Linked DNA regions of Homo sapiens. The protein of the gene in region 1 interacts with the protein of each later gene in a biochemical or structural test. Each region holds a gene or a part of one and is shown in the gene's direction. Other genes may lie near its edges. The genes, in order: TAMALIN, GRM5, MAGIX, RPS6KA1, LIMK1, GOPC and ARVCF.

The links.
Region 2: the proteins of TAMALIN (region 1) and GRM5 interact in a test that uses a peptide from one of them, tested with the Homo sapiens proteins (one large-scale study listed by IntAct).
Region 3: the proteins of TAMALIN (region 1) and MAGIX interact in a test that uses a peptide from one of them, tested with the Homo sapiens proteins (one large-scale study listed by IntAct).
Region 4: the proteins of TAMALIN (region 1) and RPS6KA1 interact in a test that uses a peptide from one of them, tested with the Homo sapiens proteins (2 studies listed by BioGRID and IntAct).
Region 5: the proteins of TAMALIN (region 1) and LIMK1 interact in a test that uses a peptide from one of them, tested with the Homo sapiens proteins (one large-scale study listed by IntAct).
Region 6: the proteins of TAMALIN (region 1) and GOPC interact in a test that uses a peptide from one of them, tested with the Homo sapiens proteins (one large-scale study listed by IntAct).
Region 7: the proteins of TAMALIN (region 1) and ARVCF interact in a test that uses a peptide from one of them, tested with the Homo sapiens proteins (one large-scale study listed by IntAct).

The regions. Positions count from the first base shown.
Region 1 is NC_000012.12:52,005,559-52,009,745, forward strand, and holds the start of TAMALIN (protein TAMALIN), read left to right. Parts: upstream 1-1,387; 5' UTR 1,388-1,461; coding exon 1,462-1,707; exon of another isoform or gene 1,708-2,097; intron 2,098-2,263; exon of another isoform or gene 2,264-3,202; intron 3,203-3,631; coding exon 3,632-3,681; intron 3,682-4,187. UniProt on the Homo sapiens protein: Plays a role in intracellular trafficking and contributes to the macromolecular organization of group 1 metabotropic glutamate receptors (mGluRs) at synapses.
Region 2 is NC_000011.10:89,063,183-89,067,180, reverse strand, and holds the start of GRM5 (metabotropic glutamate receptor 5 isoform a precursor), read left to right. Parts: upstream 1-1,198; 5' UTR 1,199-1,405; intron 1,406-3,521; exon of another isoform or gene 3,522-3,700; intron 3,701-3,998. UniProt on the Homo sapiens protein: G-protein coupled receptor for glutamate. Ligand binding causes a conformation change that triggers signaling via guanine nucleotide-binding proteins (G proteins) and modulates the activity of down-stream effectors.
Region 3 is NC_000023.11:49,165,758-49,169,274, forward strand, and holds the end of MAGIX (PDZ domain-containing protein MAGIX), read left to right. Parts: intron 1-316; coding exon 317-642; 3' UTR 643-3,017; downstream 3,018-3,517.
Region 4 is NC_000001.11:26,532,761-26,536,260, forward strand, and holds part of RPS6KA1 (ribosomal protein S6 kinase alpha-1), read left to right. Parts: intron 1-3,500. UniProt on the Homo sapiens protein: Serine/threonine-protein kinase that acts downstream of ERK (MAPK1/ERK2 and MAPK3/ERK1) signaling and mediates mitogenic and stress-induced activation of the transcription factors CREB1, ETV1/ER81 and NR4A1/NUR77, regulates translation through RPS6 and EIF4B phosphorylation, and mediates cellular proliferation, survival, and differentiation by modulating mTOR signaling and repressing pro-apoptotic function of BAD and DAPK1.
Region 5 is NC_000007.14:74,093,804-74,097,303, forward strand, and holds part of LIMK1 (LIM domain kinase 1), read left to right. Parts: intron 1-2,818; coding exon 2,819-2,957; intron 2,958-3,276; coding exon 3,277-3,386; intron 3,387-3,500. UniProt on the Homo sapiens protein: Serine/threonine-protein kinase that plays an essential role in the regulation of actin filament dynamics. Acts downstream of several Rho family GTPase signal transduction pathways.
Region 6 is NC_000006.12:117,592,512-117,596,011, reverse strand, and holds part of GOPC (Golgi-associated PDZ and coiled-coil motif-containing protein), read left to right. Parts: intron 1-3,500.
Region 7 is NC_000022.11:19,975,324-19,978,823, reverse strand, and holds part of ARVCF (splicing regulator ARVCF), read left to right. Parts: intron 1-748; coding exon 749-866; intron 867-1,237; coding exon 1,238-1,409; intron 1,410-2,100; coding exon 2,101-2,118; intron 2,119-2,146; coding exon of another isoform or gene 2,147-2,247; exon of another isoform or gene 2,248-2,256; intron 2,257-3,066; coding exon 3,067-3,138; intron 3,139-3,500. UniProt on the Homo sapiens protein: Contributes to the regulation of alternative splicing of pre-mRNAs.

The DNA.
Region 1 (4,187 bases):
AGTGGTTAGATTGCAGGCTCTGGAACCAGGCTGCCTGGCTTTGAATCTCAGCTCTGCCGCTGAGTGACTTAGGGCAAATTACTTATCTTCTCTGGGCCTCAGTTTCCTCATCTGTAAGGGAGGATAATGGTGCTTATTTCGTAGGGTTGTTATGAAGACCAAGTGAGTTAATGCATGTATGTAAAAGGACACACAGAACAAACAGTGTGCATAGCACATGCTAAGTGCTCAATAAATGTTAACTGTGAAGGCATAACAGATTTGGGAAGACTGGGGGAGGAGGGAGGGGACAGACAAGGGCACCGCATTGCCGCCTCTGCTTCTTGGCCGATGGGTGTTGGGACATGGAGTCCCCAGCCTGTGCTGCTGACGCCCTGTGGTGGCTAGCCGCTCTTTAGACACCAGACGCTGCCTTCCACTTCCTCCTCTCACTTCTTATTCGGGCACCACTGACGACAGAGACTTCGGCTGGGCCATTCCCGCCTCTCCTACCGCCTGGCAGCCATGGTAACAGCCTGGGGGATGGTCCCTAAGATGGGGTCAGAGAACGGCTGAGCATGGCCATCCCCCCAGCCCTGAACTCCCACTCAGCCTGGGCTCATCCCAACCTCCTGAGTCAAGTCCACAGTAAGCGTCTGTCTCCTGGGAAGGGGGATCTGACCCCGGCATCAGGAGCTGAGGAAAGGTGTTGCCAGCAGGGATCACTCAAGCCCCTTGGAGGGGACAGGCCAGAACTAAGCCTACTGCTTTCAGGGTTTCCACCTCTTCCCTTCTTCCTAGACGTGCGAACAGGGGGCAGCCTCTTTCAGCTCTTCTGGGGCAGCTGCGTCAAGGGAAAATCCTGGGCCCTCTCCCTCCCTGGGGGCTTCTGCGCAGTGAGTTCAGGGAGTCTCCTCCCTCCTCCATCGGGCCTCCACCCCTACTCCTGCGCAGCCCCGCTGCCGCTCTCCCTGCCCTGGAGTCTCCTGCAGCCCCTTGGATCTCCGTGACTCTCCCTACCTCCCCGACTCCCCAGGCTTCTTACAGTGACCTCTTACCGTGCCCCACTCCATGAATCGCCAGAGCTATTCGTCCCTAAATTTCAAACCTTGCGCAATGTCCCTTCACAGACCCCTCCAGGTATCACGCAGCCCCGAGCCCCGAGCCCCGCCCCGGGGGCCTCATCCCGCCCCTTCGCGTCCGCGGCTCGTTTTCCCCCACTGAGCGCCCAGCTCCCGCAGTTTCCCCGGCCGTCGAGCGCCGTGGGCGGGGCTCCAGGGCGGCGGCGCCTCGCGGGGAGGGTCCTCCGTGCTGGGGGCGAGGCCACCCGAGGCAGCTCCCCGCCCGCCCCCAACCCCGCCCCGCTCTCGGAGCCTATAAAGGGAGGCGACCCGCGGCCCGCCCGGCTGGCATCCCCCAGCCGCCGCCAGCCCCGCCGAGGGGAGCCAGCGCCGTCTCTGAGGGGCGTCCGGCGCCGGAGCCATGACCCTCCGCCGACTCAGGAAGCTGCAGCAGAAGGAGGAGGCGGCGGCCACCCCGGACCCCGCCGCCCGGACTCCCGACTCGGAAGTCGCGCCCGCCGCTCCGGTCCCGACCCCGGGACCCCCTGCCGCAGCCGCCACCCCTGGGCCCCCAGCGGACGAGCTGTACGCGGCGCTGGAGGACTATCACCCTGCCGAGCTGTACCGCGCGCTCGCCGTGTCCGGGGGCACCCTGCCCCGCCGAAAGGTGCGTCCCCCGCCCGCCTTCAGGATCTGCTCAGCCCCTCTCCGACTCCCTACAGGGCCTGCTGACTCCGCAGTGCCCTCTCCTCGGCGTCCGCGGAGTCCCCCACCTTCTTCCCCGGCCCGCTGGGTGCCTCGACTCCCCGCGTTCCCCGCTGCTGCGAAGGCCGTGGCCCTCGCCTGCACACCGCGCCCAGGCTCGGTGGCTCTTAACTCCGCGCCCCATGCACGCCCCCTCTCTCCCTCCTTGACTCCTCCCAGCACCCCCCTTCTCCTACCCGCTCCATCTGGCTTTCTGCCCCCCATGCCCCGCCTCCCCGTGGCCAGGTGTCCTGGGTCCCCAGGAGCCCCTCGCCCGAGGGACAGAGACAGCCCCAGGCAAGTTGAAGGTCCGAGAGCCCCCGGTGGGAGAAGCGGGCCGGTGGCTGCGCCGCGTGCGTTCTCACTCTGAGGAAGTGCGTGGGGAGCCGCTGACTCCGGATAGCACACCCTTCCGAGGGGACTCCCCGATTCCTGGGCTGGGGGCCTGCCGCCTGGCCCCACGTCTGACGTACGGGGCGCGAGGGCCACTGCTCCCTGGACTTCTGTCGGAACCGGACGCAGTGGGAGGGGTCGCAGGGCGCCCGCGGGGCAGGAAGGATGCGGGCCGCGCCCACCTCTGAGTCCCCTCTGCCAGCCTCTTCCTCTGGCCCCAGGAGACCTGAGGCTCAGAACCTACACAACACCAGGTTAAGAAGAGGGGCCTGGTGGCCTTTCCTCACCCAGCCGCCCTCCTTCGCCCCGGCCCCCAGCTAGCCCCCACACAATGAACAGCTTGTTGAGAATTTGCATTTTATGAAAATCATGTTGAAAGACAAAGGGGTCTCTCTGTGCTGCCCAGTCCTTCCTCCCTGGCCGTTTGGGAACTGTCCCCACCCCTGAGGCCAATCTGGTTCTGAACCTTCTCTTCCTTGCCTTGGGCAGCTTTGGGGGAGGGTTAGCAAAGGCACAGAACAGAAAGGCCCTGGGCTGTGCAGGCTCCAAAGAAAAGGGCTGCTCTGGGACTGGACCTCCTCCCAGGACCAAAAAGTTAGGGAGGGTGAGAGACTACTTTAGTTTATCAAGGACCCTGAAGAGACAGGAACCTTCATCTCTCATCCTTCCTCCACACCCCCCACCACCACCCCTAAAGAACTCCCAGTCTCGGTCCTTTAGTGAGACTTGCTGACAAGTTTGACATCTAAGATGTTTTGTCCCAGAAAGCACAAAATATATGGCAATGGAGAGAGAGACCCAGGTATAGCTGGGCACAGCTGGTCACCTGCAGCTGGGATCCACAACTGGTCCTTGAAACGGCCTGTACCTTAGGAGACCTGGCACCTCTGACCCCACATTCTGGCTGGGATTGCCAGCCCTTCGGGACAGGGTCCCTGACCCCAGCCCTCCCAAGCCACTGTCTGTAGCTGAGAAATTAGATGGAGAGACCCAACTGGCAGAAGGTCCTCGGAGCACCTTGATAGGTGAGCCCAGGGGACACCTATCCTCTGAATCCCACTGGGGAAGAGCCCCTGCCTCAGCTTTGGGAGTCTGGATGGCCTGAGCCTCTACAGACATGGGCCCTAGGGGTGGAGACCATTTTAGAATAATGATCTCCCCACCTGCTGCCAGTGTGGAAACCAGCAAGGGCTTAGAGGTTCATGGATCTGGAACCCAGGAGGATGGTTGTGTCCCTGCAGTCCCAGGTATGAAGGTAAGGCCTGTAGAGAAAGTTGAGGAGTGGTGCCAGTAGTGGCACTTGGCAAATAGTTCCACCAGCACCAAAACAGGTGTGGATGTGGAGCTGGGAAGGGGCAGACAGGAAGTGGGTCGCTGTGTCCAGGGTAACCTCTCAGTGTCTGCTCAAGGACAGTCCCGCCTTACCTGCTCCTTCTGACCATCTTACTGCCCAGGGCTCAGGATTCCGCTGGAAGAATCTCAGCCAGAGTCCTGAACAGCAGCGGTGAGTCACCAACACCCAGCCCCTGCCATGGTCCAAAGGGGTGAGGTGCTGGGTTGGGGGGTGCCAGGACAGCATCTCAGCCTAGCGAGGGTAGTCATTCTCCTAGCCTTTAAACATGGCTCCCCCGCTGGGAGTGAGGGCAGGTGGGGGTGAGGGCTGTGTGAAGGGGGTGGCAGAGAAAGGAGGTAGGGACTTTTGAGTCATTAGGTGCTCTTCAACACACCCCCAGTCCCTGCCAGTTACCCCTCCCTGGGGAGATCTGGATGAACGGATGTGGGAGTTGGGAGGGGGTGTAGGCAAAGTCTATGGGGAACGTCCTAACCCAGGCCTCCTGGGCTCCCCTGAGCCCTCCTAGCCTTGGCAAACCCCACGGGCCCAGACCTTAGCCAGGCTGTGTCCAGCTGCTTGGGGCTGGCTGCCCCTGCCTCCAGAATGTCAGTCCTCTTCTGGTCCCAGCCTGTGGCAGCCCTCTTAGGAGGGATCTGAGCGTGGGCAGAAGTAGGTGC
Region 2 (3,998 bases), on another chromosome or scaffold:
ACTTAATCACATCACCAGAGTCATCTAGTCATGTCACCCTCCATTTTCTTGCGAACTCACTATTTTATGTATTTTCTCACCTATGCCATCTTTCTATTTTCTCATCTATGCCATCTTTCTTTCTTTCTTTTTTAATTAAGGAAGCTCACTCACAGCTTTCCTGGCCTCTCTCCAAAGTACTAAAACTTGTTTTGTGAATTGCAGTCAAAGAAATACAAAAAGTAACAATGATCCCATCAGTAGACGTGAAAATGCAAGAAGAAAGATGCCATTGTAAAACCCAACAAGGTGTGGTAGATACATCTCTTTTTCTTGTTGTTAAATCCTGAAGCTATCAAACAAAAACTTACCTTATTGACAAGGGTCTAGTGGAAAATCTAATGAGCATTAGTAATGAATGCACCAGCATCAATCCCCTTGTCTGTAGTGCACTCATCTTTTAATCTTTGACCCAGCTGCTGCAAGCACCTGGTTCCCAAAATTCAGCTAGGGAAATACAATGGGAATAATAATCATATTACTGCAATGTCTTTCTTTTCTTTAAATTAAGCTATGCAAGTAATTTATACCAATCGCCTTTTCAGAGGCAGAAATGAAGTCTGCTTTTGTACTTAAAGATAACCTCAGCATAGCTGACAATCCTGGGCAGTTATGGGGGTGGTGAAGGAAGGGAAGCAAAGTCATTTGAGAAAGTAAAGACATTCAACTGCCAACGAAGAATAAATTTTAACGGATGTAGGAAGAATCGTTTGTAAGAAGTGCAGAAAATGCAAAATGGTATTATTAATAAGTAACATCATTAGAGGCCGTTCTTTCTAACCAGTCACACCTCTGAATCATCTCGGGCTTCCCTGACTTCCTAGCTTTCTGTACCCTCCAGCAGTGACGCCCCTTCTCCCAATCATTGTCAGGGGTTTCAGTGCCATAGTCAAAAAGAACCTTATTATCTACCTGCTCCCCCAGCTTCTCTCTGAGTGACACACCACCCACGCCTCCTCCGCACAGCTTTCCTCCTCCCATGGCTCCCAGAGGGAACGTGAGGAGCAGGAGAGAGAGACCAAGGCTACCCTCGCCTGAACCCCGAAACGACGAGGCTTTAAGACCCTTATTCACCCACTGAGTCTATGCCCTGGCCGTTCTGCCAACCCCCGCCGCGCGCTGCGGGAGTATAAGCCAGCCCTGCGCTGCGCTTCCAGCTGCGTCTGCCCGAGCGCGGCACGTGCTCCCGGCGCTGGCGCGAGAGAGCGAGCGCCACCGCCGCGGGCCCCGCAGCCGTTCTGCCTGCTGTCACCGCTGCCTCCATCGCCGACACTAGCGCTCCAGCTGCAGCCAAGGCCGCTACGAGAGCGCAGGAAGCCCTCGAGGAGCGGCTGCCTGGGGGCGCAAGGCTCAGGGCGCGCACCTGGTAAGCACAGCGCCTTTTTCTTTCTCTTGGCTATAGTTACCACGGATATAGGATACCGCTGGAGCCCCTCCCCCAGTGCAGGGATGGAGAGCAATCAAGCAAGGGGCGGGAGCTGGGGCTAAAAAGACCCAGGAGGGCAAGTGGTGGGCAGGTGGAGGGCTGGTAGAGCCAGGAACGCTACGAGGTCCTGCAAGTTTAGAAAAGTCACCCTGCAAGGACGTGTGCTGTGTGAATCAGACATAAATTTAAGTCAGGAGCCTGGGCTACCGCGGTATCGCTCCAATGGGAGGTTTATGAAGATCATTTTGCTTTTATTTGCATAAGTGAGGGATTTAAGTGGGCTTGTTTCCATAGAAAACGAACTAAAAAAAAAAAACAGAGGAGGAAAAGATAAAGATCCGAGCCAAAGGATACGTTTGGATCTCTCTCTCTGTGTGTCTGTCTCTCTCTCTCTCCCTCTGTCTGTGTGTGTGTGTGTGTGTGTGTGTGATGCCAATACATGTGCACGAAAGGCAAGGATTTAGGAAGAGAGATGGGCTCCTCTATCTTTGAGCCCATTAGGTGTTTGAGGGAGCTAATGGCAGTTGCTGGTGCTTCACCCCAAAAAGAGGCAGCAAAGAAGGGACCCGACTGGGTGTAAATGTCAGTTTCCGTTTCTAAAAGGACTACAGTACTAGGAGGGAGAGGTTTTCTGGAACTGTGGGTCATGTAAAGATGGTACACCTGCAGCTCTGGACCTATAAACTCAAGTTCATATACTCCCAGTGGAGCTTGGAAGACATGTTTACTCTTGGTTCCTTTATGGAACTTTGGCAAAAATAATATCTCTCTCTCCCTCTCTCTCTCTCTCTCTCTCTCTCACACACACACACACACACACACACACAGAGAGAGAGAGAGAGAGAGAGAGAGAGAGAGAGAATATGAAAAATGAATACAGGGAAGAGAAGGGAGCTGAATATGCCTGAATAGGCTGAGTGGGGTAGTAGAAGGAACAAGAACAGGGTGATCGGGTTTGGCATCACTGCGTTCATTCAGTTCTACCCTAGGTAGTTCCTGGACAGATCTCTAGAGAAACATGACCTTGAACAAGCCCCTTAACCTTCATGTACTCAGTTTCTCTATTGAACAATGTAGAGGATCTTCTGCATTTGGGGACATGAAGGTCCCATGCAGTAGTGTCTATGTATGTGTTTGAAGATCTGCATACTAAGAAGTAAGAACACTCATAAAATATGGATAAAGGAAGCTTCAGGGGATTCTTCCTCAAAGTACTAAAGGCAGTTGGCAAGATCCTGACTGTGCTGTTGGGATAATGCATGCTGAGAGGTCTGTGGAAATGAGTGAGGAAAATCCAACCTCCAGCCTGTAGCTCAGTGAACTTGGAGTTCTGAGAGCTGTTTAGAAATGTTCAGATCCACAGAGCCTAAAGTCATATGCTATTTTTTTAGTGTTTTATTATTTATTTATTTTTATTATACTTTAAGTTCTAGGGTACAAACCTGCACGTTGTGAACAAGTCATATGCTATTTTTAAGGTTAGCATTGAGGAAGAAGGTTTGGTGGCAAGGAAAATAAGTGCCAATCCAGTTTAAAGATTAGGTAGTCAGGGCAGCAAGAAGAAGGTTTTAGAGTAAAACATAAATGCAATGTAATCTAGGCAGAGGGGTTAGGAAGAAGAAGATAATGGATATTCCCCCTGAGACAAGGATGTCTACACTCCTAGGAGACAACTGGGACCTACCATGTCCTTGACACTCCTTCCACCTGTCTGAGGAAGGCACAGGTGCCCTTTCTCACTCAATACAGGTTTATTCTTAGAATTTAGGGATTTGTATCCCAGGTGCTGAGATATGACGGTAAACATGTGAAAAGTAAGTCCTGGGAGTGCCTCCAGCTCCCTTGCCATGTGAGCATCTGTTGACAGAGCTGGTCTACCCATCCAGATTCACCCAGGAGTCTATGTTCCTAAAGGAACTCACTGTGCCACTTGGTGGCACCAAAAAGTTGCGCAAAGAACTCTGTTCTCTATAAATACAAACTACCACCCCTCCCTCCTCCGCTCTCTCCCCTTCCCCCCATCCCCCCTTTCTCAGTAGCGGGGAGATTGCTGCACACGCCGCCCTCAGCTCGGCTGTTCTGCGCACGCTGAGCGGAGGGAATGAGCTTGAGATCATCTTGGGGGGGAAGCCGGGGACTGGAGAGGCCGGCTCTGCCCTGCTGATCCCCGTGGCCCAACTTTTCGGGGGGCTAGCTAGACCGAGTCTCACTGCTCGCAGCGCAGCCAACAGGGGGGTAAGCTTGCTAAGTGTCTGTGTGCCCAAGTGTCCCCTGGCCAGAGAAGGATTTAGGATCTATAGGCTTGCTGAGTAGCTCATAGTGTGGTTTGGGGGAGGGGGACGCGGGTGGAGCAGGGGTGGCCAAAGCCGACAAGATTCAAGTCTGTTCCATTTGCGAACAGCCTTAATTAAACCTGTTGGGGAAAAAGGCGCGAGCAATGGGGTGAAGGAGGGAAGAGCTGCAAGGGTTGAAAAGGAGATTCTGCATGCCTTCGCATCCGAGTTCCCGCTCTCTAAGGCCAGGTGCGCGTGGT
Region 3 (3,517 bases), on another chromosome or scaffold:
GGGTCGGTGGTTTGGGAGTCAACGGAGGTGGGATGAGAGAGGAGAGAGCAGGGGCTCCTAGATGAGCGGGGTTTGATTTCCTTTGGAGATTGTGGGAAATGATTTCTGAGGGGCATGTTCTGGATCCAGGAGGGGAGGGGTCTCGGGAAAGGAGGTGTCGGGGTTGTGAGGGGTGGTGCCGATCCCAGAAGGCCTGGAGGGGAGATTTCTCTAAGGGTCAGGGTCTCATCTCCCGCAGCCTTTGGGTTCTCCTGTCCATCCTCAGCCAAAGGCCTGGATTTCCCTTCCCTACTTCACCACCCAATCTAATCCGTAGTCCCGTCATGGCCAGATCGCAGCCCAGATCCTGGAGGGCCGGAGGTAACGGGGTCTCGCAGCAGCAGCACTTCCCTAGTTCAGCACCCTCCATCCCGGACGACGCTCAAGAAGACCCGGGGCAGCCCGGAGCCTAGTCCAGAGGCGGCCGCCGATGGCCCCACGGTTTCTCCTCCTGAGCGCCGCGCTGAGGATCCCAACGACCAGATCCCGGGTTCCCCGGGGCCCTGGCTAGTGCCCAGCGAGGAACGGCTCTCGCGGGCCCTAGGGGTCCGGGGGGCAGCGCAGCTCGCTCAGGAGATGGCAGCCGGAAGGCGGAGACACTGAGCCTACCTCTGACAGCGCGGGGCTCACTAGTTACCGCCCAACCTGGATCCGGCGCGTGTGGCCGCTGGGCACTTGGCACCTCCCCAAGAGCTTCCACTTGGTTTGGTCCCCCCACCCGCTGCTCAGTGGCTCTGACCACACTCCCCTCGCAGCGTCAGTGGTACGACCCTTCCAGCCGGCTAGCCTGCGCTTCTGGTTCTGGGAGGGGGAGGTAATAAAATGGTTCGATCCGGTCTTGACTTGCCAGGCGCTCGAGGCGGGGTGGGGCTGCCCGGGCCACTCTGTAAAGGAGCAGGTGGGTCGATCCTGCTTGAGTAATCGCTGACGAGCTTCGTGCTGCTGCTTTCCTGCTTGCACATGTTATCTTTGCTTCTGCCGGTCCTCAGTCTGGCGTGCTTTCTTTTTCTCTTCGCCGTCTCCTGCTCCTCTCCTTATTCATTAATTTCACCTTTTTGGAGGTGTACAGGGTCTCACACATAAATTATTGTGCATGGCATGGAGAATGCAGAGGTGAGCCTGTCGTGGCAGGACTGCACCAGTGTATCCACAGTCCTGTCTCGGAATCATACAGACCCTCAGCTGACGTCGGGATAGCAAGGCTAGAAGCCTAGAAGCAGGGCAGCTTCCTTCGCCAGAGGCCTGCGGTCTCCCACTTCCGGCCTAGTCTGCCAGCTTTTGCTGGCACGTAGGCTACCACTCTCCGGGCACCGGCTGGGGTCCTGGAGCCCCCTTTGGGGCGGAGTGGGGAAGGTGTGAGTCAGCGCCCCTGGACGGGCCGGGCTAAAAAAGGCTGTTAGAACCTTTGGGCCGTGCCCCCATTTTCCGTACATGGTGAAGAACTGCAGCCGGGCTTGTGTGCACACGCCACACACTGGGCGTTCCCGGCACGGGAGAGGCCCAGAGTTTCCTTCACCCTGGGAACAGAGCCCTACAGCCAGGGCTTATATGGCCAGCGGGACTCCAACCGGGGTAGCCGCGAGGAAGGCGCTGGCAGAGGACAGAAATGTCCAGTCACCTCCGCTGTCACCACATCCTGAGCACTCGGCCCCATCCCCCCACAGGAGGGAAGCTGTGGTCTGACGGAATGGGCAACTTTCGCCCCTGTGGGGAGGGGACGGGGAAGGAAGAAAGAATTTAAAGGACCGGAATGCGAGAGTCCAGGTGGCCTTGGAGAGGAAAGAGGAACGGTGAAGACAAGCTGCGAGAGCTGGGAGCTGGAGGGTGAAGAGGTGAACACTTGAGTGGTTAGAGCTGTAGATAGACATTGTGGGGAAGTGTGCCAGGGTGGCTTCCAGCTACCCCTGACTTAGAGCCTGGTGGAGGTGTGGTTCTTCAGAAGTCAGCAAAGGGCTCAAGAGCCCCAGTCTATAAATACAGTCACACCCAGGAGACTAATAATAGTAACCCCAGCCACCATGTACTTAGTTTTATCCCTGCTACTGGCTTTATTGCAATATTTATTTTCATCTACAATAGTTGCACATCTACTCAACTATCCGAATATGTCCATTTCGCAGAGGAGGAAAGTGAGGCCCAGGGAGTGCAGATAGCTACAGAGAGGAGGGTCAAAGCACGATTTAATCAAGGCCTGATTCCCAAGTCTGTCCTCTCAATTTCACCTGCATTGACAAGTATTAATTGAACCCCAACTGTATATGTTGCACTGTGCTAGGTACTGTGGAGATGCTGGAGGAACAAGACATAAAATTTCTTTGTGTAGCTGATGTATGTAATGAGAGTAGACAGATGTCAGACAAAAAAGACGAGAAAATGAATAAATAAAAAACCAGGCCAGGCGTGGTGGCTCACGCCTGTAATCCCAGCACTTTGGGAGGCCGAGGCTGGTGGATCACGAGGTCAAGAGTTCAAGAGCAGCCTGGCCAAGATGGTGAAACCCCGTCTCTACTGAAAATACAAAAATTAGCCAGGTGTGGTAGCAGGTGCCTGTAATCACAGCTACTCGGGAGGCTGAGGCAGAGAATTGCTTGAACCCAGGAGGTGGAGGTTGCAGCGAGCCAAGATCGCACCACTGCACTCCAGCCTGGGTGACAGAGCGAGAATCAGTCTCAAAAAAAAAAAAAAAAAAAAAAAAAACTTCAGGCCAGACATGGTGGTTTGTGCCTGTAATCCCAGTACTTTGGGAGGCGGAGGCGGGTGGATTGTTTGAGCCTACAAGTTTGATACCAGCCTGGGCAACATAGACCTTGTCTCTACAAAAAGTTTAAAAATTAGCTGGGAGTGGTGGCTCATGCCTGTAGTCCCAACTACTTGGGACACTGAGGTGGGAGGATCACTTGAGCCTGGGAGGTCAAGGCTGCAGTGAGCCATGATTGCACCATTCCACTCTAGCTGGAGTGACAGTGAGACCTTATCTCAAAAAAAAAAAAAAAAAAAAAAAAAAGGCCAGGCTCGTGGCTTACATCTGTAATCCCAACACTTTGGGAGGCCAAGGCAGGCGGATCACCTGAGGTCAGGAGTTCGAGACCAGTCTGACCAATATGGAGAAACCCCATCTCTACTAAAAATACAAAATTAGCCTGGTGTGGTGGCACATGCCTGTAATCTCAGCTACTCAGGAGGCTGAGACAGAAGAATCGCTTGAACCCGGGAGGTGGAGGTTGCGGTGAGCCAAGATTGTGCCATTGTACTCCAGCCTGGGCAACAAGAGCAAAACTCCTTCTCAAAAAAAAAAAAAAAAAAAAAAGACAATTTCAGAGAGAAGTGAGAGTCATGAAGCTATGAAGCTAGCAAAAGGAGGTTACATTGTGGGAGATGATGGTGAGCTTCTGGCCTCTTTGAAGACATAACTCTTGAGCTGCAACCTGAATGACCAGAAGCCAGGTATATGAAGCACTGAGTGAAGGGCATTGACAGC
Region 4 (3,500 bases), on another chromosome or scaffold:
TTGGGTGGGAAGGAATGATGCCAGTTGGAACCCATTTCTGACATCTCAGAACTGGGGGCAGTGGTCTGGGGCCCTGGGCATCTGTCCTCATGAGCAGTGCTCTCTGAGGAAGAGGGAGGAGTGTGGGTCTTCAACCTCTAAGAGGCCAAAGGACTCCTAAGACAAAGTCCTTCATTCAGTACTCTGCAAGGTCAGCACCATTGTCCCCATTCAGTCATTTATTTAGCACTTAGGTGATAAGTACTATTTCAGACAACAAAGTGCAGATGTCAGCAAGACACACCTGCCCTCGTGATACAGATGAGGAAACTGAGACTTTATTACTATTATTATTTTTTGAGACATAGTCTTGCTCTGTCACCAGGCTGGAGTGCAGTGGCGTGATCTCGGCTCACTGCAACCTCCACCTCCCGGGTTCAAGTGATTCTCCTGCTTCAGCCTCCTGAGTAGCTGGGACTACAGGCCCGTGTCACCATGCCCAGCTAATTTTTGTATTTTTAGTAGAGTCAGGTTTTCACCATGTTGACCAGGATGGTCTCGATCTCTTGACCTCGTGATCCTCGTGATCTGTGAGGCCTCTTGGCCTCAGCCTCCCAAAGTGCTGGGATTACAGACATGAGCCACTGCGCCTGGCCGAAACTGAGACTTCAAAAAGTGATATGAGGCCACGCGTGGTGGCTCATGACTGTAATCCTAGCACTTTGGGAGCCTGAGGCGGGTGGATCACCTGAGGTCAGGAGTTTGAGACCAGCTGGGCCAACATGGCGAAACCCCGCCTCTACTAAAAATACAAAAATTAGCCAGGTGTGGTGGTGCGGCCTATATTCCCAGCTACTTGGGAGGCTGAGGCAGAAGAATTGCTTGAACCCAGCGGGGCAGAGGTTGCAGTGAGCTGAGATTGCGCCGCTGCACTCCAGCCTGGGCAAAAGAGTGAAACTGTCTCAAAAAATAAATAAAAATAAAAATAAAAAGTGATATGACAGACCCAAGGGCAGAATAAGTGGCTGGCAGAGCTAGGATTAGTGGCTGTATCTTTGTGGCTGCACAGCTGTGTTCTTTCAAGGATTGCTATGCAGCAGTCAGGCCAGAGGGGCAGATGACCCCGGACCCAGGACCCAGGCTCTGAGTGGGAAGCCAGCACCCCACAACCCCCCTGACCCCCCTACCAGTCTGTTCTCCAGGGCTGCCTGTTCCCTTACTCTTACAGGTTTGGCGTTCCATAAGAATGACACCCAAGCCAGAGATCCAGGGAGTAGAGGCAGCCAGACTGCCTTAGAGCGGGGGGTCCCTAAGTCATCCAGGCCACTGCTCAAGAAACCCACACCTCTAGGTACACCTACCCCTTCCTCCCCACCCTCAGTAGGCTTGCAGCCACGTGACTTTGGGTTATGGTCACATGTCTGCCACCTGCCTGCTGAGGGACCTCGGTGAGTCCCTTAACTCTCCTGAGCCTCATCTGAAAAATAGGAGTAATAGAACCTGCTCTGGCCTCCTTGCTGTCTTTGCTGGGTTGAACTTTCACTGGATAAACCACATGCTGGACTCTGGCTGGGTGCCAAGATGTTGATGATGGACAAGCCATGGCCCCTTCCCGAGTTAACCTGCAGCATGCTTAGGTTATGGGGGTAGAGAGGAGGGAGGAAAGAACATGAGGCTGTGTGGACAGGGGTGACATTTGAATTCAGTCCTGATAAAAGATCAGGAGTTTGCCAAAGTGACAAGGCAGGAAAGGCTTTCTTGGTAGAGGGAGCCACCATACAAATGCTGGGGATATAAAATAGACTGTTTTCAGGGTCTGTGGTTGTTCAGTTTAGCTCAAAAATAGGGCCCAATGATAAGAATGGCTATTGTTTGTAGGCCAGTTACATGTCAGGTGTATATATTTATAGGCATTATTTCATTTGCTTCTTGCCGCCACCATTGAGGTATGTTACTTTGATCCGCATTTCACAGATGAGGAAACTGAAGCCCCAGTAAATGAACTAACCTTCTAGGGGTCACGCAGGTGGTAGAAGCCAGAATTTGAACCCACAAGGTCAGGTTGCAAAACCTACATTCCTAGTTATTGTGCTGGGCAGTTGAAGATGATGGCCTTGATTTCTATGCTAAGGAGCTGGGACTTGATTCTACAGGCAGTGGAAGCCACAGAGGGGTTTGGGGCCTGGTACATAGAAGGTTCTCAGCAAATGTTGACTGAGTGAGTTGAGTGCAGCAGTTGCACTTGATTTTAGGAATGATGAGGGTTTGGAGTGGGGAAGGCTGTGGGGCAGGGAGCTGGTGGGTAGGCTGTTCTGATCATCTGCAGGAATTATGTCAAGAGTCTAGAATGCTGGGTGAAGTGGAGCTCAGTCTACAAAAGCATCCCTACCACAGCCCAGCCCCTGGGCCCTGACCAACCCATCCCTTCTCCCCAGGCTGCTGAGAGATGACAGTGTGTGTATGGATGTGTGCATGGAGGGGCCTGTAGAACATTTGGCCCCTGGGGAGAGATTAGGGGCATTAAAGGGGCTCAGGGGGCAGGATGTCCTGGGAGTGGCAATGGGGAGCTGTTCCAGGGGCAGGGAGATTATGTAATGGGTAGAGCACAGCTGTGCCTACCCAGCTGTAGCCAAGCAGGGCTACAGCTGCCCCATGGACCCAGCTCCTGGCTCCAAAGTCCAGATCCAGACCTGTTCTAGAGCAGGCCTTCCTAGCTGTTGGGAACCTCCTGTCTGCCTCACCACACTCTCCCTGTTCTAGGAGGGGTGGGGCAATTTCTTTCAGCTTCCAAACGCCCAGATAGGGTAGGTTACTTGCCTCACATCACACAGGAAACAGATGGGCTGGGTTTGACACACCCCAGCATATTTAATAACCACCTGAGAGTGAAGTCTGGGGGCTGGAAAAGGCAAGACTGACCAGAGGGGGGCTCTGGGCTCTGGGCTGTTTCTCAGCTGACCTGTTTGGAGCACCTCCTGGATTTGGGACCAGATTTTGAATCCCCACTCACCAGTTGTGTGACCATAGGCATCATCACTAGGTCCCCTCAGAGCCTCAGTTTCCTTCTCTGCCACATGGGGCCAGGGCCTACCTCCCAGGGCTGTCATGAGGATTAAATGGTGCCACAGGGGCCAGGCGCAGTGGCTCACACCTGTAATCCCAGCACTTTGGGAGGCCGAGGCGGGCGGATCACCTGAGGTCAGGAGTTTGAGACCAGCCTGGCCAACGTGGTGAAACCCCGTGTCTACTAAAAAAAATACAAAAATTAGCCGGGCATGGTGGCGTACGCCTGTAATCCCAGCTACTTGGGAGGCTGAGGCAGGAGAATCGCTTGAACCTGGGAGGCGGAGGTTGCAGTGAGCTGCGATTGCACTACTGCACTCCAGCCTCAGCAACAGAGCAAAACTCTGTCTAAAAAAAAAAAAAAAAAAAAAAAAAGTGGTGCCACAGGTGCGAGGCACTGAGCCCAGTGCCTGCCATGTGGCAGAGGCTTGGAAGAGAGCAGCTGTTAGCCCCAAGCC
Region 5 (3,500 bases), on another chromosome or scaffold:
CCTCCCTTGACATCCTTCTTAGGGACAGTCAGGCACTCTGTGTGGGGCACTCAAGAGAGCCAGGCCCGTCAGCCTCTAGCTCCTGCCAGAATGCAGGCCTGAGGGGTGAGGGGCGGGGCAGGGGCAGGGACAGGAACTCCGGCGTGCTCTCCATCCGCAAAGGTTCACTGAGGCCCCGAGCCCCAGCCACTGAGCCACCAAGTCAGCCTGGGCCAGGCCTGGGTGCCCTGTCTGCAATGGAGGCAGAGACGGGGTCTCGGGGCAGTTCTGAGGATGCTGGGTGCACAGCGGGGGCCTCGCCGGCAGGAATCACTTATGCTCTCTCCTGGGCCAAGCTTTGTGGATGCCCAGCCTGGGGCCGCGGGGAGCTGGCAGGTCAGTGGCAGACACTGGTGGGCAGACCTAGTGTCTGGTAGAACAGGCATCAAGGAAGTGGTGACCGGAGGGAAGCCAAGTGCACTCAAACCCTCGGGTGAGTCATCACCGCCGGGTCTTTCACAGCTGCTGAAAGTGAGCAACAGTGATGAAGGTTTGTGAGTTTCTGCGTGAGCGAGTGAATGGACCAGTAGCAGTTTCCAGGTTGTGGAAGAGCGTTCCCTCCCCGGGATGGGGACACTTGGTTACAGCAATTCCTAATCCCCCACCCACCCACCGCCCACTGCAGAGGTATGCGGGGGCCCTGCTTCCTGCAGGCAGGAGTGAGGGGCACTCCTGTGATGTGGCACCCCTGTGACCGAGGTCATGTGTGATCGGTGTAAGGGCAGGAAGCGAGTCATTGGTCTGCACCAGGCGTGGGGGCTTCTGCGAGGGCAGGACCCAAAGTCGGCCTGGCCTCCCGGCTGCAGCACTCCTTTCCCTTTCGAATTAGGTTAGAGCCCTGGGACGGGAGGTGCCCTGTAGACCACCCCCCTCACCAACTTCCGTCCTCCGCCCCACCCCCGCGGTGATCCGGTGAACTGCCGGCCCCCTGCTGTGCACCGAGTGGGGCAGTGACCCTGACGTGGCGTCTCCTGCCGCCCCTGCCACCGCCACCACCTCCGGTGGCCCAGCCTCCGCATTCCCCACCCCCATGGAGGAATGCACCAGGCCTCCCTTCCTGGATGCACCCCTCACCCACATGCTTCCAAACCCTGGCATTTTCTGCTCCCCCTTTACTCCCACCCCTTCCCCTAGGCTCCCAGACAAAGGGGAAGTGGCTGGATCCTCTTAAAGGGACAGTGTCCCACCAGCTTACTGCTGAACTCCCCTCCTCAACCCCAGTTCCCTAGTTACAGTTAATTAGCATTAGCAGACAGCCCATGAGTGATACCCATGCAGGCCCCAGGCTGTGGAGAGTTTCCTGGGTAGGAAACAGCCCTTAAGGTCCCTCATCTCATCCAGGTCCCAGTCTTTCCTACCTGCCTCTCTCCTAGATTGTGGCCCTTTGGAGCCTGGTTCTTCTGTCCCTGTGTGACCGACACATAGCACCCAAACAGTGGCAGAGCGGGACGGACCCCCTAGCCTGTTCTCTGTGTGGGTCTGTACCCTGACCCAGACATGCCCCCCCACAGCAGGACCCAGGGGGGCACATGTGTGCCTGCGGGTTCACTGGGGCACCCGCATTTGGTTTATTTTATTTTTTAGAGAGAGGGTCTTGCTGTGTCACCCAGCTGGAGTGCAGTGGTGTAATCATAGCACACTGCAGCCTTCAACTCCTGGGCTCAAGCGATCCTCCCTCCCCAGCCTCCCTAGTAGCTGGGAGTACAGGACCCACTGTATCCTGGCTAATTTTTTAATAATTTTTTAAGAGATGGGGTCTTACTGTGTTGCCCAGGCTGGCCTCAAACCTCTGGCCTCAAGTGATCCTCCCACCTTCGCCTCCTGAAGTGCTGAGATTACAGGCATGAGCCACCATGCCCATCCCAGACTGACATTTCTATATTTGTTCATCCTGGCTGGGCAGGGCTGCTGGTCCCCACCCCACCGGGATGCTTGGCTGGGAAAAAGCCGGGAATGTAGGTCTAACCCTGGCCTGTGTTGTGGCACCTACAGCCTGGCATTCCTCCCCATCTGCCCTTCAAGGCCCCACCAACCAGGCCTCCTTGGTAGCCTCTAGTGAGGAAACAGGCGAACCGTGGCTTTGATGACCCTGCACACCTGGGGATTCTCCTCTATTTTTCTTTTTCTTTTTTTTTTTTTTGGAGACAGAGTCTCACTCTGTCGCCAGGCTGGAGTGCAGTGGCACAATTTTGGCTCACTGCAACCTCTGCCTCCCAGGTTCAAGCGATTCTTCTGCCTCAGCCTCCCGAGTAGCTGGGATTACAGGTGCCCACCACCATGCCTGGCTAGTTTTTGTATTTTTAGTGGAGACTGGGTTTTGCCATGTTGGCCAGGCTGGTCTCAGACTCCTGACCCCAAGTGATCTGCCCACCTCGGCCTCCCAAAGTGCTGGGATTACAGGTGTGAGCCACCGCTTTGGGAGGCCGAGGTGGGCGGATCACGAGGTCAAGAGCTCAAGACCATCCTGGCCAAGATGGTGAAACCCCATCTCTACTAAAAATACAAAAAATTAGCTGGGCATGGTGGTGTGTGCCTGTAGTCCCAGCTACTCAGGAGGCTGAGGCAGGAGGATCACTTGAACCTGGAAGGCAGAGGTTGCAGTGAGCCGAGATCGAGCCACTGCACTGCAGCCTGGCGACAGAGCAAGACTCCGTCTCAAAAAACAAACAAAAAGAAAACTTGTTCTAATTCTTACAAAGGTGCCTGTAGCCGAGGCAGGGGCCCAGGTGAGGTGGAGGAGGGCGGGAGTGGACGTCTCAGCCCGGCCCCTCTCCTGCAGGTGTTGTGACTGCAGTGCCTCCCTGTCGCACCAGTACTATGAGAAGGATGGGCAGCTCTTCTGCAAGAAGGACTACTGGGCCCGCTATGGCGAGTCCTGCCATGGGTGCTCTGAGCAAATCACCAAGGGACTGGTTATGGTGAGCGCCCCCTGCCTTGCACACTCACCTGGGGTGGGGGTATCCAAGCAGACCCCATGCTCCAGGTCTCTCTCCCATCATTGTCTCTCCTGGTCTCCTTTTTGCTGGTCTTTGGAGCTGCTTTCTGAGCCTGACTGTCTGTCTGTATCCCTCAGCGCCCCCATCTATGGAGCCAGCTCTGTCCAGGAGCTCAGCAGCTGGCCAGCCGGGTCCCTGCAGTTGTTTTTTTGGTGACACCCTTGGAAGAGGCCTAGGGGAGGATCTGTGGGGGTTGTTGGGTCTGCTGAGCTGGGCTGTTCCCTCCTCACCCCCGCACCAGGTGGCTGGGGAGCTGAAGTACCACCCCGAGTGTTTCATCTGCCTCACGTGTGGGACCTTTATCGGTGACGGGGACACCTACACGCTGGTGGAGCACTCCAAGCTGTACTGGTGAGTGCCTTGGCCCCTCCCTGAGCCTAGGAGGCCCACCTGTGTCACAGATCTGCAAGGGTGCTGACTCTCCCACACCCGGGCCTCCTGCCCTTTCCCATGGGGTGAGGTTTG
Region 6 (3,500 bases), on another chromosome or scaffold:
TGGGAATGTAAACCACCAACCACTATGAAAAACAGTGTGGAGATTCCTCAAAGAACTAAAAGTAGATCTACCATTTGATCCAGCAACCCCACTCCTGGGTATTTACCCAGAGGAAAAGAAGTCATTATATGAAAAAGATACTTGCAAACATGTTTATACTAGCACAACTCATAATTGCAAAAATATGGAACCAGCCCAAATACCCATCAATCAATAAGTGGATTAAAAAAATGTGGTGTGTATATATACAGACACCTGGAATATTACTCAGCCATAAAAAGGAATGAAATAGTGGCACTTGCAGCAACCTGGGTGGAATTGATTGGAGACCATTATCTAAATGAAGTAACTCAGGAGTGGAAAACAAAATGTATGTTCTCACTCATACATGGGAGCTAAGCTAGGAGGATGCAAAGGCATATGAATGATACAATGGACTTTGGGGATCTGGAGTAAAGGGTGGGAAGGGGATGAGGGATAAAAGATGACACATTGGATACAGTGTACACTGCTCAGGTGATGGGTGCACCAGAATCTCAGAAATCACCACTAAATAACTTATTCACATAACCAAACCCCACCTGTTCCCCAGAAACCTATTGAAAAAACAAAACAAAACCCAAACAAACAAAACAAAACACAACTGAGTTCCTTTCCATTGTGAGGCCTAGAGAGGCATTGGAATGAAACCGCAGTTATGGCACTCCCTTTTGACCTAAGCAGTTATCTCTGGAAGCCACCTTCTATGTAGGATTTAGACTAACTGACGCCAAGTAGCCATAAAATACCATATGCTGGACACCATAAGTCATACCTTATAGTGCAACAATGAATAGCCAGTCACTAATCAGTGATTGTAAACCAATGAGAATTCTTATCAAGCAACTTTGTATCTGCCTTGTTCCTTTTTCCCTTTAAAATCTGCTTGTAACTCAGGTGCCAGAGCACTCCCCAGGCATCTGGGAAATATGTGTTGAGTAGCTGTCCTCATTTTGGCTCAGGTAAACTAAAGTATATTTTGTGCCTCAGCCTTTTCCTTTTAGGTTTACAGTAGGAATAGTAATACTAGCAGTAGTAGGTGTGTTGGAATAGAATAAAGATTGTGAACCAATACTTTAAAAAATTCACCTCTGCCTTGAAAGAGTGTTCTGCCTGTTACTCCTTTTTTAAAGTAACAGCACAACAATACACCTTCTTTCACATCCTCCTTTCCCTCAGCAATTGCTCTGTTAGTATCTCTTTGAAGTGATTTATTATTCATAGCCAACAGTAGAGAAACTTTTAACTTTGATCTAGAGCCACATTGATAATGAACTGGTGATATGCTTGTCCCTTTGCTGCTTTAAATCTGTCCTGTTTTTAAATAGGCTGTTTTGCAACATTGAAGCTTAAGTTTAATATTGATCCAGTACGCACTTATGAACACGAATTATGTGCCAGATGCTGTATTGGGCACTTAGGATACAATGGAGAGCAAAAAAGGGATGTAGTCATGGCTTTTATGGAGTTTGGATTATATTGGAGGAATTTGTTGGGAGAATAATCATGTAAATGAGAAATTGCAACTTTGATGAATACTATGAAAGGTACATAAGAGTAAATGAGACCCTATTTTGGGATGTCAGAGAAGGCTTCCCTGAGGAAGTTATTGAGCTAAGACATAAAGGAATTATGTGTAAATAGGAATGAATTAAGCTAAGAGAAATAGGAATGCCATTCAACATTGCCGTAGAGGGAATGGGAAGTGAAAAGCACCTGTGGTGGGCAAGCGCATAGTGCATTTGAAGATTCGAGAGATAGTTGGTATGTGTAACAAGAGAAGAGGGCAAAAGAAGCAAGGCACAAGATAAGTTTGAACAGACAGAGAGGGACTATTTCTACATGACTTTATGGCCATGCAAAAATATTTGGGGCTTTATCATAATCGTGGGAAGTCTTTTAAACCAGTTCGTAGCCTCAGATATGAAGTTAGAATAGTTCACTCTGACTATGGTATGGAGAAAATTGCAGAGAATGACATGAATGAATGCAGAAAATTGTTTAGAAGGTTTCTGTTTATGTGAGATTATGATAGTGTGGAGTAAGATAATAGAGGTAGGAGAAGGTATTCAGAACAAGAGAAACTGGAGAGGTAAAAATAAAAAAAACCTAGAGATGGATTGGAACAGAGGGATGAGGGAGTTCAGGATAAATCCAAGTGACAATCTTGTGCAGCTGGTTGCCTGAATAGATAGATGAATGTGTTATATTATTAGCAATAACAATATTGCCAACTTTATTGATCAGTTACCATGGGCCAACCTCTCTTCTGAGTCTTTTACATAGACTGATTCATCCAATTCTCACAACAGTCCTGGAAACAGGTTTATTAGTATAGTTACTCCAACTTTACAGGGATTAAGTAAGAGGCCTGAGGCTACGGAGCTAGAGAAATCAGTCTCTGCACAAACACATTATGTCTGATGGGGGATGGAGGAGGTGGAGAGAGAAGCAGACAGAAAGAGTGAGTGTGGCTGAATAGATAGCAAGAAGTGAGATTGTAGGGTACAAGGGAGGTTTTGTTTTCATTTTGTTTTTAAATAAAAACAAATAAAACATAAGTCTGTGAGAAGCATCTACTTGAGAGAAAAGCCAAATATAGAAAAAGAGTGGGGTAGTTAATATTAGTAAGATTTTGTAATAACAGCTACTTAGAAGAGGGAGAGAATGGGAGCAGACAGTAGGAGGTTGTGGAAGTTTCTGTCTGATGGCTTTTTTTTTTCTGTAAAATAGGAGCCCACGTCAGTTGCTAAAAGTAGGTGAGAGTAAGAGCATGAGGCTAGTAGAAGAGGTTTGAGATAGTAATGGAAGAGTGGGAGAGCCAATTGGCCAGAGAAACAGGACTGCCAGGCATTGTTGAGGAATGGCTTGGGGTTAGTTATCATAAATTATGGTGCAACCGGTCTGTACTGTTGTGTGATTTTCTCTAGCAATGCATATCTGTTTAGGTACAGGCACAGTAATGAGAGTAATAACTAGGTTTATTCAATGTTATAGCAAAGGAGTTTGTTATACAGACAAGTGTGTTATTGAAGTGAAAGTGGTAATGGGGCTGATGAAAAGGAGATAAATTGAAGACTAAGGAAGGAGAATTGACAGGATTTGATAATTATGTAGATGCAGGAGATAAGAGAAAGGGTTAAGGATAACACTGCATTTCTGTTTGGGAAATGATTGATCAGTATCTGTAGTGGGTTGAATCGTATCCCTCCAAAATTCATATCCACCCCCAAAACCTCAGAATGTGACCTTATTTAGAAAGAGGGTCTTTGCAGGTGTAATTATGTAAAGATGGAGGTAAGATTATAGTGGATTAGAGGGGGCCCTAAATCCAATGAAAGTGTGCTGATAGGAGACAGAAAAGGCCACACACAGACACAGAGAAGAAGGCTATGTGATGATAGAAGCAGAGATTGGAGTGATGTATCTACAAGCCAAGGGATGCCAGTGATTGCCAACAG
Region 7 (3,500 bases), on another chromosome or scaffold:
GATGGCGGCGAGCTTAGGAGCGCCAGAGCTTAGGAGCTTCAGAGCTGTGGCACAAGTCCTGTGGATGAGAAGTGGGGCCTGATGGAGCTGTCCTCACCCCCAAGTGGTGTCCCAGTCTTCCCAGGGGCACCCTCTGGAGGGGTCTCTGTGGTACCGTAGCCCTGCCCAGCTCTCACCTACCTTCCCATCACTTGACAGCCAGAGGGGGAGCTGGGACCTTCCTGTTCATCTGCCTGGGAGGCTCATCCCAGCCACCTGTGACCTCTGCCCTTCCCCTCCTACCCCTGGGAGGCCCTGCTGACCCCACAGAGTCCTGGGTCCCCACAGTCCTGCTTGTCCATCAGGGTGTTCCCGCGCAGCCCTGCAGGCTCTTGACCTTGGGGTAAGGTGGGGCCCAGAGCTGCCATTGGGGTGGCGAGGGACCCAGAATTGCCCTTGCACAGGTTCAGGTCTCTCTGAGAGTGCACCTGTCCCTTTCCAGGTCAGCTGGGAGGCAGGGAAACCCTGTCTTTCCCTGCCCAGCTATCCCCAGCCAAGATAGTTGTCTGCCAGGGCTCCCCTCCTGAGGCCTGGGGGCAGTTAGCTTCTCCCCCTTCACTGAGCTCCAGACTGTGGGGTCCTTTCCCATTAGTGCTAGGAGGGCAGCAGCAGGGCCTATTTTGCAGATGAAGACAAGCCCACAAGGCCAGGGTGGAGCCAGGGAGTTTCTGGTAGCCAGGGGTCACCTGGCCTGCTCTTGGCCACACAGGAATGTGAGCTCCGATGGTGCTGAGGCCCGGCGGCGACTCCGGGAGTGTGAAGGGCTGGTGGACGCGCTCCTGCATGCCCTGCAGTCGGCTGTGGGCCGGAAGGACACTGACAACAAGGTGGGCAGGGACGGTCACAGCCTCATACCAAGGGCTGGAGAGACGATCATGCAGGTCCCAGGAGGCTGGAACTGTGGGAGCAGCACAGGGGAATGGGCTTGTGGGTCTGGGGTGGCGTTCTGGGTGTGGCCCGCCTCGCAGTGACCACACTGAAGTGGGCACCGTCCTGCAGGCAGAAGGTGTGCCGTGAGGGCAGAGGCTTCCTCCCATGGACCCTTCCTGGCGGTTACCGCCCTTTTGCTCCCCTCCACTGAGGACTCCCTGTTCCTTTGCTCCCGGTGCCCTCATGCACACCAGCTGTGGCCAGTCTTTCCTGAGGGCCAGCCCTGTGCCTAGGGTGCCCTGCCCCACCCACTCACCTCTCCCTGCAGTCGGTGGAGAACTGCGTGTGCATCATGCGGAACCTGTCCTACCACGTGCACAAGGAGGTGCCCGGGGCCGACAGGTACCAGGAGGCCGAGCCCGGGCCCCTGGGCAGTGCTGTAGGCTCCCAGCGCCGGAGGCGGGATGATGCCAGCTGCTTTGGAGGCAAGAAGGCCAAAGGTGGGTGGGGCGGACTGGGGTATCATCTCTACCATCTCAACTCCTGCCCCAGCGGAAGGCTCTCTGTACACCCACAGCAGCCCATCATGGAGGCTAGAGGACACCTGGTCAGCCCCCAACAGGCAGGCAGGGAAGCCAGGAGTCAAGGAGGCTGGACTGCCCTGGGTCACATGGTTGATGGGACCCAGGTCCAACCTTCCCCATCTACACTGTGGGACCCCCAGGGAGTACACAAGGGAAACCAACCAATGCCCAGACCCAGTCTTTCTACTCCGGGGAGAGTTCCACTTGCCCATGAGTTGGGAAGGAGCCATGGCTGCTGCCTGCTCACTGTTCACAGAATAGCTGTAGACTGCCACCAACCTGTGGGGCAGCCCCCCATCTGCCTGGGCAAGATGCCCTGCACACCTTCTCTACTGCACTAGCAGGGTGTAGGTTCCCAGGACCTCCCCAGCAGCTGTGGGGGACCTGTACGCCACCTGCCCCTGCCCCACTGACCCCAGGCCTCCCTCTTCTTGTACCCCTGGTGGGTGCTCAGTGCCCAGAAGTGATGGGATGAGGTTCCACATGCTGCCTGCTTGATCCAGGGTGTGCAGTGGGAACCTGAGGCTTCCGGGAGGGCATGGGGGGGTGATGAGTGCTGCCTGTTCAGGCTCCTCTCCTCTCTCCTCTGCTTCCTCCGGCCTCCCAGAGGAGTGGTTCCACCAAGGTGAGTCCCTTTTTATCCTGCTCTCCAGGCCTGGCGTGTGCAGTGGGTACCTGGGAAGAGGCGAGCACGTTCCAGCCCCAGGGCCCTGCCCCACCCCTGGCTTCATCACTCGGGCTGCCATCTTTATGACAGTGGCAGGTGGGAAGGCCACGGGGCTCATTCTGTAACCTCAGACTTGCCTACCTGGGCAGAGTTGGGCAGAGCCAAGAGTGGGCAGGGCCCGGGGGTACTTATCTCTAGGGGCACCAAGGAGCAGTCTGTTTCTCTGATAGAATGGGGCATCATGTGGCTCGGAGGGATACAAGGGTCCCATGAGGGTGAGCAGGGCAGGGACCCCAGGTCATCTGGCTCCACTCTGCTGCCTTCTGAAGGGGTAGAAGCATCATCTGACATGGGGAGAGTGGTTGACAGTGGGCTCACTGTCACAGACGTGTGCAAGCCAGGGCTACACAAATGTTAGGTGGGCTGCTGTGGGGTTTCTCCTGGCTAGTAGATCCTGGGACAATGTCCTGACCCCAGCTGGGGGAGTTTCCCCCTAGTTCTGCCTTACTGTGTGACCCAAGTGAGTCTTGTCCTGGTCAGCCTTCAGTTTCTTGGCTTGTATCCACCTACCATCCAGCCAGGGCTCCTGGCTTCCCTCAGTCTACATACCTGGCAGTTGCAAGGGAGCCACCGGGAGGGTCTGTGGTACAGCTCCCAGCACCTGGTGGGAGATGAGTCCTAGGGGCAGGGCTGGGACATCCCCAGGCCCCACTGCCACCAACTCCTACCCCTAGGCTAAACTGTCTGCCCAAACTCTGACAACGGTGCTCCACTCCCACAGGTGCCCAGGCCTGGACATGGGGGTGCCTTTTGGGGCCTGGGTAGGAGAGAACTGTGCCCAACTCTCCTGATACACCCATTCCCCATATGGGGTCTGCCTCACCTCCCACCACCTTTCCCTTCCAGGAAAGAAGGATGGTGAGATGGACCGGAACTTTGACACGCTAGACCTGCCCAAGCGAACTGAGGCCGCCAAAGGTGAGTGGGCTGAGATGAAGCCAGCTCCACTGGGGGATGTCTGGGCTCAGGATTGCCCTGGTAGTGAAGCTTTGAGCCATCAAGCAGGCCTGGAGGGCCTCAGGGAACAGATGGGGAAACAGGCCCCTAGGTGCAGGATTTCCTGGAGGGTGATTCAGCACCAGGACACCTGCTGAGGGTTTAGAATGGGAGGAAGTGCCATGGGTCATGTCAGGCAAGGTTGGGGGAGACAGGCACAGAGAGGCCGAGGGCTTGCTCGGCCTCACGGTGCGTAAGAGGTGGGAAGGTTTGGAGGGACGCCTCCAGTGGAGGCAGGGCCTCCTGTGTTAGCCACAAAGCTGAGTTATCTGAGGGGGCTGGGA